Linked DNA regions of Homo sapiens: region 1 is linked to region 2. Evidence: fine-mapped expression QTL. A gene starts in region 2. The other region holds a variant in brackets. All regions are shown on one strand. Distances are between the middles of the regions.

Region 1 (8,344 bases), 130 kb before region 2:
CTCAAACTCCCAACCTCTGGTGATCCGCCCGCCTCGGCCTCCCAAAGTGCTGGGATTACAAGTATAAGCCACTACACCCGACCAGCTGTTTAACTTTCTTCAGCTGATATTTATTTGAATACAGAACACCTCAAATAATGAATAACACCCTCTTGCCTTTGGAAATGCTAGAATACAGTATTCCCTTTGCTAGGTCACAGGCTGCAAAGGTTCAGGGGACTTGGGTGTATAGGACAAGGCAAGAAGGGCAGGTGGGAGCAGATCATGATCAGCCTCATTTCTCATATTAAGATTTTGCAGACAATGAGCTGAATTAATTTTGAGCAGGGGAGTTATCCAATTTGATTTGTAGAGGTCCTACTACAACATGTTGATCCACATTGTGGGGCCAAGATTAAAACACCCTTTCTAGTCATTGCTCTTCTGCACTGAGATAAGATTACATACACATGGGCTCCTGTGAGTTGGGTTTTAGTTAAAGCAAGCCGTATCTCATGAGAGCACCGACCATGTTTGACTTTTTCACCCTAGTACCTAGCTTCATACCTGGTATATAAGAGAGATATTCAGTAAGTATTTCTCAATGAAAGAGTGGTAGAAATGGGTTGCCATCCCTGTAACAGCTGCATTTAGGCTTAGTAGTCTAAAGCAGTATTACCTCTCCATTTGCACTATTACCCTTCCCCGGCTTTTTGTTTTATTTTTATTTTTTTAGAGACAGGGTCTCACTCTGATGCTCAGGCTGGAGTGCAGTGGTGCAATCATAGCTCACTGCAGCCTCAGAACTCTTGGGCTTAGGAGATCCTCCTGATTCAGCCTTCTACAGTGCTGGGATTACAAGTATGAGCCACTGCACCCAGCAGGTTGCTCTTTTAACTTAAAACATGCTACTAGGCAGTTAATGGCCTAGTAAATCTCCACAACAGGAGTGTATTTACATAGCTTTGGAGCAGACAGATTACATTTCATCTATAGGAACTCAATGAGTTAGTCACTGCCCACAGCAGCAACTAAGTGCTCCAATAAGGACAGTTACATGTGCCCCAAAACCAACAGGGTAGACTGGAGTGAAGCCAAGAGTGCATACAATCACCTAGGTTTAAGACAGAAAGAAGATATAGTTGGAAAGTGGAATAAAATCAAGTTACATGGATATACTCCTCCATTCTGCCCCATCTCATTCCATAAAGATTGTATAAGTATTTTACATAAAACACAAATTAAAAGCAAAAGATAAAGTGAAACAAAAATTTAGAATAGGGTGTCAAAAGTAGTGAAAAATGAAAACTAATGTGGGCCTTAAAATTATACACTGTTGCTTTATTTGAAATGCTCATGTAATACCAAATTTCCTGGCAGCTGAAGTGAAACCCACAAACATTGTCAGTTACATAGATCTCACTGTAAGGAAAAATTCCTACATTAGAAGCAAGGCTTTTCCAGGTATTTTTCTTAAAAAAAAAAACAAAAAAAAAACTGGGCTCCACATGGATTACTATACAGACGCAGGGCTCAAGAAGACATATTTTGAGGCACTTGCACAGTGTCAAAAATAAAACAAAATTCTGTATATTTGCATAATAAACTCAAGAGCAGAAGACATAACCTTACCCTTATAACAACCTCCTTAAAACGGGATAAGATTAATTTCTCTTTCTAACCTTAATACTCTAAATTTTAAATAATTTTAAATATTCAATTTACAAATTTAAATCCGCAATAATAATATAAATAATTCATACCAAATGGAGAGAAACAAATTTTACCTCTACAGCCTGGCTCTGAGGATTCTTGAGAGAGTGCATGGTCTTGAGTACTTCCTAAGGGGTCAGAACGTGGGCTAGATGAGGCCTGTTCAACCCCTGACAAGGAGAGAAACATAAAAGAAAAGTTTAAATAAAATAAAAGTGCGGAAAAAATTAAGTAAAGCCCAAACCAAAGTTTTATGGGGTTTTTGACCTAAAATGTATCCCTTTTCAGTAGATTATCTGTATATTTCCCCCTACCTAAATCAAGATACAATTCATGCTGTGCACTTACCTCCACATTTTAGATCCCCCTGCTCTTCCTTGGCATTTTTCCACTGAACCCAGTTCTTCCAAGCATTTACCCCATACATGTATTTCAGTGTCATCCCGGACACTGAGCAGCCTTGAAAGGCTCCTTGAATAAGACTCCTGGGCTCCACAGCCACTATAGACTTCTTCCGTCCCTGTAAGAATTCCAAAAATTTACAGAACATAAAATTTAGTTTTGGATTTTTAAGAGTCAGGGTTCTCAAAGCTGGAAAGGGTATACATTTGTAGAATAAAGAATTTAGTTTTATATCCTAAAGATTCAGAGTTCTTAGAGCAAGAAAGGGCTTTAGAGATTATTTAATCCAATCCATATGAGGAAGGAAGAAAGAAAAAGTTTAAATGCAGAAGAGCACACTGTAATAATCACTAACATTTGGGTATTTACTATGTTCCAGATATAGACTCACCTGATGAGGTATGAATAACTACTATTACCACTCAGGTCTATTTAATGAAACATGTAAACAGATCATATTCTGTGCTATAAAACAAGCCTCAACAAATTATCTAACTACAATGAAATTAAAATAGAAACCAATGATGCATAGATGTCCAAAAAAATCCTCCAAAATCATAAATTAAACAGCTCTATGGGTCAAAGAAGAAAGGACACATGCAATCACAAAACATTTTGAACTTAAAGGAAAATGAAAATAAAATTTACCAAAATTTCTGTGATGGAACTAAAGCAGTACTTAAAGGGACATTTGTAGTATTAAAATGTTTCAATAAGAAAATTTTTAAAAAGTCTATAATCTATAACCTAAGCTTCTATATTAAGAAACTAGAAAAGGAAGGCCAAGTGCAATGGCCCATACCTGTAATGCCAGCACTCTGGGAGGCCTAAGTGGGCAGACTGAGCCCAGGAGTTCGAAATAAGCCTGGGCAACATGGCAAGACCCCGTCTCTACAAAAAATTAAAAAATTAGCCAGGCATGGTGGCATACATCTGTAGTCCCAGCTACTTGGGAGACTGAGGTTTAAGGATCACCTGAGCCCAGGAGGTTGAGGTTGCAGCGAGCCATGATTACGCCACTGCACTCCAGCCTGGGTGACTGAGTGGAGACCCTGTCTAAAAACAAACAAGCAAAAAACCAGAAAAGGAAATCCAAATTAAAACCCAGGCTGGGTGCAGTGGCTCATGCCTGTAATCCCAACACTTTGGGAGGCTGAGGCAGGTGGATCACTTGTGACTCTCATGCCAATAAATTAAACAACTTAGATGAAATGGACAAACTTCTTGAAAGATTAATTAAGCTTACTCTAGAAGAAACAGATAACCTAAATAGCCATAGAAACAGCATTTATAGCTTAAAACCCTCCCACAAAAACTCTATTCCCAGATGGATTAAATTCCATCATAGTTAAATTCTATCATAGTTAAAGAAATTATACAAATTCTATCATAGTTAAAGAAATTATACAAATTCTATCATAGTTAAAGAAATTATACAAATAGAAGAAAAAGAAATATTAACTAATTTTATAATGTCACCATTACCCTGATACCAAAACCAGTCACAAAGTACAGATAAATATGTCTTGAACAGGGACACTCAAAACCTTCATAGGGCCAGCCATGGCAGCTCACACCTGTAATCCCAGCACTTTGGGAGGGCGAGGTGGGTGGATCACTTGAGGCCAGGAGTTCAAGACCAGCCTGGCCAACATGGTGACACCCCATCTCTACTAAAAATACAAAAATTACCCAGGCATGGTGGTGGGCACCTGTAATCCCAGCTACTTGGAAGGCTGAGGCAGGAGAACTGCTTGAACCTGGAAGGTGGAGGTTACAGTGAGCCGAGATCGCGCCATTGCACTCGAGCCTGGGCAACAGAGTGAGACTCTGTCTCAAAACAGAACAACAACAAAAAACCTTCGCAGAATATTAGCAAACCAAATCCAGCAACACAAAAAAATAATAAATACAGAAAAAAGTAGGGTTTATCCCAGGAATGGAAGGTTAATCATTTGAAAAAATTAATGTATTTCACCATTTTAACAGACTTAAAAAAAGGAAAACCAGATAATCACCTCAAAAGATGCAAGAAATCCACCTGAGGAAGTTCAATACCCAATCATGATTTAAAAAACTTTCAGCAAATTAAAAGGAGAAGGGGAACTTCTTCAACCTGATAGAAACCACCTATGAGAAACCTACAGGTAACATCATACTTTCTGTTGCAAGACTTTTTTCACCGTAAGGTTAGGAATAAGGCAAAAAGGTCTGCTCTCACTACTAATATTCAACATTGTACTGAAGATACTAGCTAGTTCAATAAAACAAGAAAAAGAAGGAAAGAAAATGCATTCAGATTACAAAG[T/GAAAAAGT]AAAACTGTCTTTATTCACAGATAATATGATTGTCTAGGTAGAAAATCCTAAGGATTTTAGTTGAGCAAAGTCACAGGACACAAAGTAAATACATGAAAATTACCTATATTTCTTTTTTTTATTTCTAAGATAAATATCATAGAAGAAAAAATTATCTATATTTCTATATACTAGTAAGGAACACGAAAAATGAAATTGTTTTTCTTTTTTTTTGAGACAGGGTCTCGCTCTGTCGCCCAGACTAGAGTGCAGTGGCATGATCAGGGCTTACTGCAGCCTCGACCCCCCCTAGGCTCAAGCAATTCTCCCAGCTCAGCCCTCCAAGTAGCTGGGACCACCAGCATGCGTCACCATGCCCAGCTAATTTTTAAAATTTTTAGTAGAGATGGGGTCTCACTACATTGCCCAGGCTGGTCTCAAACTCCTGGGCTCAAACAATCCTTCTGCCTTAGCCTCCCAAAGTACTAGGATTATAGGTGTGAGTCATTGTGCTCAGTGAAAAATGAAATTTAAAAATAATACAATTTACAACAGCATCAAAATATCTTAAATACTTATGAAATAAACTTAACAGAATATAATGAGACTTGTAATGCAGACTATTCCATGTTTCCAAATTAGAAGACTCAACATTCCTAAAATGTCAATTCTCTCCCTCTGGATTCAGGACAGCCCCAACTGAAATTCTAGCAGCCTTTTTTTTTTTTTTTTTTTTAAAGAAATTGACAAGTTGATTCCAAAATGTATATAGACATGCAAATGACAAGTTTAAGAAGAACAAAGCTGGAAGATTTACACTCTTAATTTCCAGGCTCACTGTAAAATCACAGTAATCAGGACAGTTGGTACTGGTATAAAAATAGACATATAAGTCAATAGAACAGAATAGAAAGTTTCAGAAACAGACTGATAGATACATATATGATTGACTTTTAACAGAGTTGCCAATGTAATTCAATGGGGAATGAATAGTCTTTTTCAAGGGCAGTGCTGGAACAACTGGATGTCCATATTCAAAAAATGAACCTTGACCCTTGTCTCAACTCATATATAAAAATTACCTCAAAATAGATCACAAACATAAAAGTTAAAACTATAAAACTTCTAGAAGAAAATGTAAGAGAATGTCTTAGTTACTATGAGTTAGGCAAAAATTTTTAGATGAGGTATTAAAAAGCACAATCCATAAAATAACAAATTGATAAAAGGGACTTCCTCAAAATCAAAATCTGCTACTCATCATTAAGAAAATAAAAAGGAAGTAACAAAATAGGACCAAACGTTGATTTGATAAAGAAATTATGTCCACAGTAAAGAATACTTACAACTCAGCAAGATAACAACCAACCCAACAAAAAAATGAAAAAAATGTGCGAAAACTGTGAATAAACACTTTACCAAAGAAGACACATGAATGGCAAATACATATATGAAAAGATGCTTAACATCATTAATCATTAGGGAAAAACAAATTAAAACCATAATGAGGTACCACTATACATTGACTAGAATGGCTAAAATTAAAAATCAACAATACCAAGTGTTAGCAAAGTCATGGAGCAGATGGAACTCTCTCATACATTGCTGGTGGGACTGCAAAATGGTACATCTCCTTTGGAAAACAGTCTGGCAGCTTTCTTACAAAGTTAAAAATACACATAAGCATAAAACCTAGCAATCTCATTCCTAGATCTTTTTCCTCAAGAGAAATGAAAACATATGTTCACACAAAGATTGATACTAAGATGTTCATAACATTTTGAGTAAGTTTTATTCAAAATAGCCCCAATCTGGAAACAACCCAAATTTTTATCACCTGTTAAACAGCTGAACAAATTGTAGTTTGTCCATGTAATGAAATACTACTCAGAAATAAAAAGGAATCAACTACTGGGACATGAAATAACATGGATGAATCTCAAAAACATTATGCCAAGTAAAAGAACTTAAACACAGAAGACTACATATTATAGGATTCCATTCATGTGAAATTTCAGAAAAGGCAAAGCAGTGGCATTCTGCATCAATCGGTACAGTAGATCAGTGGTTGTCAGCAGCCAGAGGGGCTGACTGCAAAAGGTCATAGTGGAACTTCTTGCTAAGTGGAATTGTTCATGATTGTGGTGGGAATTACATAACATATACATTAGTTGAAGGCCATCAAAATGTACACTCAGAACTTAAAAATGTTTTAATATAATTATACAATAGGGCTAATTTTAAAAATAAAGCTATTATTCTTTCAACTTTGTATAGGAAAGCCCTGTCAATGTGAAAAACAGCCATGTGAACTTCACTATTTTACTATACTATAAAAATAGGGAACTGGCCGGGCGCGGTGGCTCACGCCTGTAATCCCAGCACTTTGGGAGGCCAAGGCGGGTGGATCACGAGGTCAGGAGATCGAGACCATCCTGGCTAACATGGTGAAACCCTGTCTCTACTAAAAAATACCAATAAAAATTAGCCAGGCGTGGTGGCGGGCACCTGTAGTCCCAGCTACTTGGGAGGCTGAGGCAGGAGAATGGCCTGAACCCAGGAGGTGGAGCTTGCAGTGAGCCGAGATCACGCCACTGCACTCCAGCCTGGGTGACAGAGCGAAACTCCGTCTCAAAAAAAAAAAAAAAAAAAATAGTGAACTACTCAGTATTTTTTATTTTTATTTATTATTACTTTTTTTTTTTTTTTTTTGAGACAGTCTTGCTCTGTAACCCAGGCTGGAGTGTAGTGGCCTGATCTCAGCTCACTGCAAGCTCCACCTCCTGGGTTCAGGCCATTCTCCTGCCTCAGCCTCCCGAGTAGCTGGGACTACAGGCGCCCACCACCACACCTGGCTAATTTTGTTGTATTTTTAGTAGAGACGGGGTTTCACCATGTTAGCCAGGATGGTCTCGATCTCCTGACCTTGTGATCCGCCTGCCTTGGCCTCCCAAAGTACTCAGTATTATAACATGTAAAAAGAGCTAAATTTAGAGGCTGTTCAAACAGATAAAGCATAAAAAATAACTATAAAAAGTTTTTTAAAGTAAACAAAGCAATATAAAAGAAAACCCTTAACTATAGAAACAAAAAAAGTTCCTACTGAAAGAAATGTAAATAAAATATATGGTTCTTGAATTCAAAAAACAAAAGTTGCAAAACAACATGTGGAACTACCTGACTCTGGCTGTTACAGAGTTTTGAAAGCAGCAGGAACTAAATAATGCTTGTAGAATGAAGGAAAGAAAAGTCTAGAAAAGTTAAGCTGCAGCTTACTCTTCGTCTGGGTTGGGGGAAGCCATCTCTGTGTCGTCGTCTTGTTCGGGAACGTGCCTGGATTCCCTGTCCTTTATTAAGTGGGTCAAAGGAGTCTATAATAATCAGCAGAAAGGACAACATGAGGTAAATAACTCACAAATTTAAATAAAGACTTAGACTAGTAAAGAAATATCAGGTAATCATCACTATATTCATTAGTTTGTTTGTGATAAAATAAGGATTCCACTTATAGACTTAAACCAAGGATATAGTGCATAAATGAAAACTTCATTAACAATCAGGAAAACCTCTTATATAGCTACTACGGGAAAGGTTAAAAAAAATTTTAACCACATTAACCACTTATAAGAACAATATGGTACGAATTAACACCTACAAAGCCAGGGTCTATTTGTGCTCTAGATTATGACCTCTAACACATTACACTGTTATTATCAATAACAATTGGCACTGCTTAATAGTGTCAATTCAGAGTTGTACCGATCTTTTAAAATAAAAAGCTTTCAGTGGACAGGTTACTGTACACAAACCTGATGGAAAATCTGCTTCCAGGTCCTGTTCAGTTTCCCCTTTTGAGAACTGCTTCAATTCTGAATCAGCCTCTTGCACAGCATTTGACTTTAAGGCATAGTGATTCAGCTCTTCCTCCCAGCTATGTGGAGTAGATACTGCCTCTGATTCAA
Region 2 (8,344 bases):
CTCTCTATACTAGAGATGATAGATGAATATAGCGCTGATCCACCCACATACTCAGCTCCCCCGTGTTCACAAATTGAGAGACTAGCATTCCAGCATATTCTGAATACAAGTGTTCCGACTGCCCACAAATATAAAAACAAGACATCAGGCAGGCCTACCTAGAATTTAAGGTTGTTAACCCAATGGTCTTAAAATGCAGTCACCGGCTGGGCGTGGTGGCTCACGCCTGTAATCCTAGCACTTTGGGAGGCCGAGGCGGGTGGATCACGAGGTCAGGAGATCGAGACCATCCTGGCTAACATGGTGAAACCCCGTCTCTACTAAAAATACAGAAACAAAAAATTAGCCGGGCATGGTGGTGGGAGCCTGTAGTCCCAGCTACTCGGGAGGCTGAGGCGAAGGAATGGCGTGAACCCGGGAGGCGGAGCTTGCAGTGAGCTGAGATAGCGCCACTGCACTCCAGCATGGGCGACAGAGCAAGACTCCATCTCAAAAACAACAACAAAAAATGCAGTCACCTGCCCATCTAACCATAATCCAGAACAATCAGAAGATCCCTAAATCTGGATCCATAGGAGAGAACTCTGGGGAGTAAAGGACGCTATGAAAGATTTACAGAGCCCCTCAAAATTACAAAGCAGAGAACTTGGTACTCAACCCATAGAGCCTCTGCTGTACTAGGTAAGCTATTCTTACAAAAATAAGTCAGCAAGTCTTTTGAGTTCCTACTGTGTAGAGGTCACAAGATGTCCAGACGCAAAAAGCAATGAAATAGATACTATGTTAAAGGAGTTCACAATTTATCAAGAGAGCCAGCATATATTATCCTAAATGACCCTAAGTAACAAAGCACAATGCCTAGCATGTAGCTTATGAAATAGCACAGGTGCTTAGCAACTTTTTTGTGACATGATTACAAAGGTCAAAAGCAGTAAGCATCATTAAGTACAATACCATGTCATCAATGCAATTTCAGATTGAATAGCCTAAAGTTACTATCTAAGTCTATGTGGATAGTTTGTTTCAACTCCCTCAAGGCAGTCAATTTCCAAAGACATGGTACTGCATAGTCCCCATTAATCGGCTTGGAGTATACATATGGAATCCACATGTAATTTGGCACACACCAAAAAAAAGTGGAAAAAAGTACTTATATCATTTAAGACAATCATACCGAACATTCTAATGAAATATCAAAAACAAAATGAATTATGGATCAAAAAATATTATTTATGTATTATTTTTACTTTTTCTAGAGAGGGGGTTTCCCTCTGTCACCCAGGCTGGAGAGCAGTGGCAATATCATAGCTCACTGCAACCTCCAACTCCTGGGCTCAAGCAATGCTCCCACCTCAACCTCTGAATAGCGAGGACTAGAAGCATGTGCCACCACACCATTAATTCCAAAAATCAATGAATGTAATTTTCCTCTGTGATGAAACTGGCAAAATAATGGGGGAAACCTATACAAGTCCTGCGTATGTTATAGGTTGTTAAAAATAAAATTAACTTTTGGGCCAGGCCCGGTAGCTCACACCTGTAATCCCAGCACTTTGGGAAGCCGAGGTGTGCTGATCACCAGAGGTCAGGAGTTCGAGATCAGCCTGGCCAACATGGCAAAATCCCATCTTTACTAAAAATACAAAAATTAGCCAGGCATGGTGGTGCTTGCCTGTAATCCCAGCTACTTGGGAGGCTGAAGCAGGAGAATTAATTGAACCCGGGAGGCGGAGGTTGCAACGAGCCGAGATTGCGCCACCGCACTCTAGCCTGGGCAACAGAGCAAGACTCTGTCTCAAAAATAATAATAATAATAAAGTTTTTACTGCTACCAGTATGGTATCTTTTTTTTTTTTTCCAGCATTCCTTTAGCAGAAGATTCACAAGACCAGTAACATCTTTTAAGTGTACGACAAGAGGCAGAATATATTTAAAATCTAGTTGAATTTGTTGTCAACACACATCAATGTTTTCTAGAATATCCTAGAACATCCTAGTACAGAAGGTGAATGACAACATTCACAGCAACTGGATGCAGAAATCTCCCTGAATTAACATTACATATCTTAAGTAATTTACCCTGTATATTTTCATTGGTGGACTATATGCCATATGCCTTCATCCAAGCACAGTAAGGATCTAGTTCAAAACTGAACACAACTTGAAAATTTTAAAATTTCAAAACACATGCATTCCATACACAACATTTATACTTACAAAACTATTTGGACATACCATCATACAGCTTAACTTGCTCTATGACTAATTATTGCATTAGGTGAATCCAACATTTCGTAAACTTATCAATGGTAAAAATTTATTGTTCAAAACACTACGATGAAATGCATTAAAATAACACGACTGATGAACAGAAAGAGGGATAGAGGGGTAAATATATGATAAAACAAGTGGAATGCAATTTTTTTTTTGGAGGGGGTTTTGAGACAGTGCCTCCCTCTGTCACCTAGGCTAGAGTGCAGTAGCACGATCTCGGCTCACTGCTACCACCGCCTCCCTGCTACCACCGCCTCCCAGGTTCAAGCGATTCCCCTGCCTCAGCCTCCCGAATAGCTGGGATTACAGGCACCCGCCACCACGCCGGGTTAATTTTTTGTATTTTTAGTAGAGACGGGGTTTCACCATGTTGGCCAGGCTGGTCTCGAACTCCTGGCCTCAAGTGATCCTGCCGCCTCGGCCTCCCAAAGTGCTGGGATTACAGGCGTGAGCCGCTGTGCATGTCCGGAATGCAATGTTAACAGTAGGATCTAGGCGGTTGGGTGTATGACTGCTCCCCGTAAGTTTTATAATATTGACGGATAGTTCAAAATATTTTCCTAATAAATTGTTGGAAAAAATAATACTTGACACTTCTTTGGTCATTTACAATTTAAGCTTTTAAGGAGAGAAACACAGATTAAAGAAACTCCTCTGTGGCATCCCACACAGGCACTATAGTTGGGACAAACCTGGATTCAAATCCTACCTCAACCTTGCAACTAGCTGTGTGATCTAAGTAAATTACTTAAGCCCTCAACACCTAAATTTCCTCATCTGCAAATAGGTTCTAGGAGGAGTTACTATGAAGTTAAATTCTTCACATAAAGGTCTTAGCTCAGTGCCAGGCACACAGTAAGCACTCAAAACATCAGCTGTAGCATCATTACGAGATTACTAATTTTACGCTAAGCTGAAAGGGCATTCTTCATAAAGTAGTAATTTTTTGCCCTTTTGCTAATTGATCGTTTCTGAAACCATTCCCAAAAGGAAGACTCCTAAAAGGAAACTTACTTCTTATCATGCTAAGCGGGGAGGAAGTAAAAGAAAAGTGAGGGATATTGCTCAATCGATAGTACAGTATTGTTCGCCATCTGAAAAAAACCACTCAGAATTAAATAAGGAAAGTTTCCAGACAAACTTTAAAAGGTATTCAAACAACTCCTATGTAGAATTGGCTTCACCTCTGCAGGTTGATTGGGTACATCCCTGTTATGAGAAAACTTGTCGTATTCTTCCAAGTCCCTAATTGCGAGTAAGAGGCTAGGCTAGAACATGACATTCATAGTAGCCAAAATCTTTCTCCTAAATCAGGACATGCCAACGATCCCACTTCTTCACAGGTAAGACCACCACCCCGACTTTGGTCTAGATAACGGCTATGGGGGGAGGGGAAAGGAGGCAGGAAAATGAATTCGCGATGGTGTTACTGAAGAACCCTCCGGTTATTTCTCCTGAGACCCCTCCACGACTTATTCCCGCCACCACCACCCCCACCTGACCTCTCCCCAGTTAACTTCCAGACTCTGATGTACTAAAGATGCACTAAAGATGCACTTAAGAATCTGACACCTCCCCTCCCTGGGCCTAGATATCCCACCCCAGTGCTGGGGAACGTCGGGGGGAGGAAGGCAAACAACGGCCCCCTCCCCTCCCCCCCACCCAGCACCAAATCTTTGTCCCACCTGCCGAGGGACCGCTCGCCAGCGCGCTCCGGACCCAAGGCTGCCTCAGACCTGCCCGCAACCTTGTCCTAACTGGGCCTCGGCGACCCCTCCACGAACCTGAGTATGGCCCATTCCCGGCCCCGGGCCGCGCCCCGCCCCCCGCCGCCCGAGTTCTGCCTCACCTCACCTACCCTCTTTCGGGGGCCGGACTCCACCTCTCTCTCCGCCATGTTGGGCCCCGCTCGGAACCGCTGCGGCTCCCCGCGCGGTGGCGGCGGTACCTCTCGGCCCCCCGGCCCCCGCCCACACTGCAGGCACGGCCGCCTCGCGGCAGCTTCCCCGGACCCGGCCGGGCCTTGCGCCGAGAGTGGGGAGGGGGCGGATGCCGCGCGCCGGGCCGCAGCTTCTGAGATCCCACGGGTCCGCGCGTGGGCGGGAGGGCCTGCCCGGGGACGGGGTGGGGGCCGGGACTCGGGGGGTTAATGGCCTCCAAGGGGCCCCGTGAGTAGGATTATTTTCTCTCAGAGAAATTCCTCCGCCTGCGGTTTCTTAAAGGGATCACCAAATCAGCCCCTTGCGCGCGCCCCTGATGCGCAGGCGCACCCTAAGTCCCTCCTTCCTTTCCCACCAAGCCCCCGGTCCTGAGCGTGCGCGGTAAGTGGCCATGGGTAGGCCAAATCCTGCAAGTCTCTTTGCTGCCAGCAGCTGCTCCCACCACTCAACTATGGCCGCTCCCTTAAAGGGACCATGACGCAGGGATGAAGGAGAAATGAAAGAAATTACTGGAAAGACAATCTGGAGAATTGGGTGCAATGTCAGTGAAGGGTTCCACATCACCATCTTACACCTGACTACAGTGGTACCATTGAAGAGGGAAAGTCATGGTAAGCTGAAGTTCTCAGTGGACCTCTGAACATGAAGAATCCCAAACCAATGAGGGAACAAGACAGTCATCTCAAGGAAAACCAACTTTCCTCCCTTTCGACTGCCTGTTCTGAAGCACAAGGCATAGAATATCAAGAGCCAACTCCTATAACCTCACCTTAAAATCAAAGCTTTTGGTGATTTTGAAGATTGAACCAACAACTGGAAATAATTTCTTCAATAGTAATTTATCCTTAGAACATCAAAATGGAGAAGGATCTTAGGGAACCATTTACTCCAGTGCTCCCAATGATAAAATTGCAGCCTGATCATGGGAAGGAATTTGTCCCAATGTAACTAATGGCTGGTGTGGAGTTGGAATCAAGATTACAGTCTCAGTCCTCCAGGCTGTCTTCAGGCGAGAGATAAATTTGGTTTAATTTGATATCCCTAGAAGATTAAAAATTGAAGTTTCATGGTATTTGGAGAATATCATAATTCTCTTGTGAAGATGTAATGATTTGCAGATGATGGGTGTCCTCATTCACCTCTATTGAAGGAGCTTGACAATCTGCCTTAAAGGATAAGCATCTTATTTCTAAGCAGGAAACCAGGAAGTAGATTTGGGTCTATCTTGTTCCAAAACTGGGTCCTAAGCTGAAAATCGCTGAAAAGAATGAGGGCTTCATTCATTCCTCTTCTGTTCATTCTAGTTCCCACAAGCTTTGGGTGCAGAAAAAATTAAGTTTATAATGATAGTTCAGGGACAGTGGGGAGACATATAGTAAGAAATACAAAGAAGATGCCTCCTGAAGGTCATTTCCCATGACAAGACATATTCAAGTGGGAATGATAACTCCTGAAGTCACAGGATAATGAGATGTAACTTCTGTTTTCTGTTTTATTTAGCACTTGGTAGCTATTCTGAAACAGATGTTTTCTAATCTGTAATATTTTGCTGAAAACTTTTGGTGAAATTGCTGGAAGTTTCCATACTGGCCTTGCTTATGCCTTTAGCACTGTCTTTAATTTCACTCCTCGGTAGGAGAGAAGAAAGAAGGACAAAGAAATATGTTCATTTCAGCCAGAATTTTAAAAACATGTTCCCTTTAGTTCCATGTCCAGGACAAGAAAGAAAAGAGGAGCCAAGAAAAGATAATTCCAGGGAATGTGGCTACATAAAACTTGTAGTGGTTTCCACCTGTTTTATTGGCAGTGGAATACTCCCTTCTAATAAAATCTGGTGGTTTAAAATGTGGAGCTGCTAAGTTGGGAGTGTAAGTGGGGAACCCACTAGTCTATTCACCCAGCTTCACCCTTGCACTCTCTCTCCTTTCATGCCCCCTCCCATCATTACAGAAATGTTGAGTTTCTCAGATCACAGTTTAAACTTATTAGTTTAGTCTAACTCCACATTTTCAAGATGAAGCCTCTGAGGCTTAGAGAAGATATGATTTGCTTGAGATCACACACAGGATTAGTAACAGTATCAAGACTGAAACAGACATCTTGATCCTCAGGGCTCTGTCCTACACAGACTGTTTCTGGAGGTATTAGCAATGTGTTAGGTCTCGAATAATAGGTGGGATTTGTGCATTTCAGATAATATACAAGCATAACATGAATGTTCAGGGCAGTCATCCATATGGAGGAATAAGACAAGAGAAAACCATTTAGTGAGCACTGAAAAGTTAATCATAATTTTATAGAAGGATTCACAGAGCTTAAGTGACTAGTCCAAGATCATTCAGCACAGAGGCCAAGTCAGAATTCAAAGCCTTGTTCTTTCTGACTTATTTGAAATATCGTAAAGTAGACATTGTAAATTGGTGGCCTTGTGACCAAATCTGTCCCACAGAAATGCATTTGATTTGTATTGTGTATAGCTATATGATCTTGGTCAAGGTAATTGTCCTGTGCCTCACTTTCCTTATCTGTAAAATGGGACACCAAGAGGATTAAATTAGTTAACATCTCTAAATCTCCTAGAACACTGTTGGTTCCTAATACCATATGAGTATCATTATTATTATTATTATTATTTTTTGAGACAGAGTCTCACTCTGTCATCGAGCTAGAGTGCAGTGGCGCGATCTGGGCTCACTGCAAGCTCCGCCTCCCGGGTTCACACCATTCTTCTGCCTCAGCCTCCCGAGTAGCTGGAACTACAGGCACCCGCCACCATGCCCGGCTAACTTTTTGTATTTTTAGTACAGACTGGGTTTCACTGTGTTAGCCAGGAGGGTCTTGATCCCCTGACCTTGTGATCCGCCTGCCTCGGCCTCCCAAAGTGCTGGGATTACAGGCGTGAGCCACCGCGCCCGGCCATTATCTTTTTTTTAAAAAAAAAAAGTTAAATCATATATCAACATTTTAAATGGGATATTTCACCTACAAGTTCAGTGCTCTGACTTGTTTCAAAAAAAAAAAAAAAAAAAAACTAGACTATAATGGGGCTAGTATCTTGCAAATATCAAACAGATTTCTTTTAACTTTCTTAAGTCATCTTCTGTCATAGACTCTTGCTTGAAATGTAGCCTTGAGACTTATTTTCCCAATCAGGAGAGAACAGAATGGAGAGAAAAAGAATTTGCTAAATTTTCTTAGTTCCATTTAATCTATGAAGCTCAGCACATAATAATTTCATAGAGTTTTTACATACTCCACAGGAAATGCCTTCCACCCAAATATCCTTCCATCCAGGACAGCTAAGCCATGAGGCTGCATATAGGGAAATAAAAGAAAAGTCTGACTCTTTTAATAAAAGGGTAGAGAGAAGAAGAACAAAGAGAAAAGTAAGAGAGGCATCATTGAGAGACATGTGCTCCTGTCTTCCCATTCCAGCTCTTCAAGGCAGAGAGGATTCTTACTCTGCTCCTGTTTAAGATTCCAAGTAGAGATGACTTGCAGACTATGCCCATACCAACAAGCAGACAGCCACATATGAGCAAAAGTCATGCCCTGATGTAGTTGGGAAAAAAGAGCAGGTCTGCATTTAGCTCCTCAGAGTGTCTCTCAGCCAGAGATGAATCCAGGTTTTACAGATCTTGAAGCTTACATGATGGGGGGAGAGGGAGGGTTTTTTTGTTTGTTTGTTTTGTTTTGTTTTTAAGAAAAAGAACACAGAATTACATACACAAAATTAGGTACAGGGTTTTGGGCGGAGCTCTGCAAGTGAGTGGTCCTTAGCTCCTGCGAGAGAAGATATCCAGAAGTTCCCACATACCCTGTAGAAGAATACGGAAAGTAGCCAAGAATGCTGGCTGGCAAGTATAGGAGGAAGTAGCTCTGTAAATTACACTGGGCCAGGAACAAAAAGTAGTAACAGCCAGACCTCAGGAAGAGCTGTGTGGTTTGCCTTCAGGCTCTGAGCAAACTTAGCGAGGCCAGGCTACAAAACATTCCACTCTCTTAACAACAGGCTGTAGAGCATCCTGAGAGGTCAGGGACTCCGAATAGATTCAAGGTCTCAGGCTTCCCCAAAGTCATAATGCCTCATAAATGCAGACGTTATTTTAGATACTCACTCAGAGGGAGAG

What was found. PIP is the estimated chance that this variant, and not a neighbour inherited with it, causes the effect. A credible set is the group of variants that fine-mapping cannot tell apart.
Region 1: its variant is the best candidate, but not a certain one, in a credible set for the expression of ZMYM4 in whole blood (INTERVAL, PIP 0.87).

The regions. Positions count from the first base shown.
Region 1 is chr1:35,398,891-35,407,234 of GRCh38, reverse strand. ZMYM4 (zinc finger MYM-type containing 4) reads right to left here. Exons shown (of 30, transcript NM_005095.3): 22 at 8,192-8,344; 23 at 7,659-7,753; 24 at 2,041-2,212; 25 at 1,767-1,862. Among named protein-coding and RNA genes, the nearest start is that of ZMYM4-AS1, 37 kb to the right of the region's middle. The variant T/GAAAAAGT (reference allele first, on the strand shown) is at 4,403.
Region 2 is chr1:35,264,874-35,273,217 of GRCh38, reverse strand. ZMYM4 (zinc finger MYM-type containing 4) reads right to left here and starts at 4,509. Exons shown (of 30, transcript NM_005095.3): 1 at 4,133-4,509. The coding sequence starts at 4,171. RefSeq lists enhancers at 1-410, 4,680-4,739, 4,760-4,819 and silencers at 3,990-4,119, 4,190-4,549.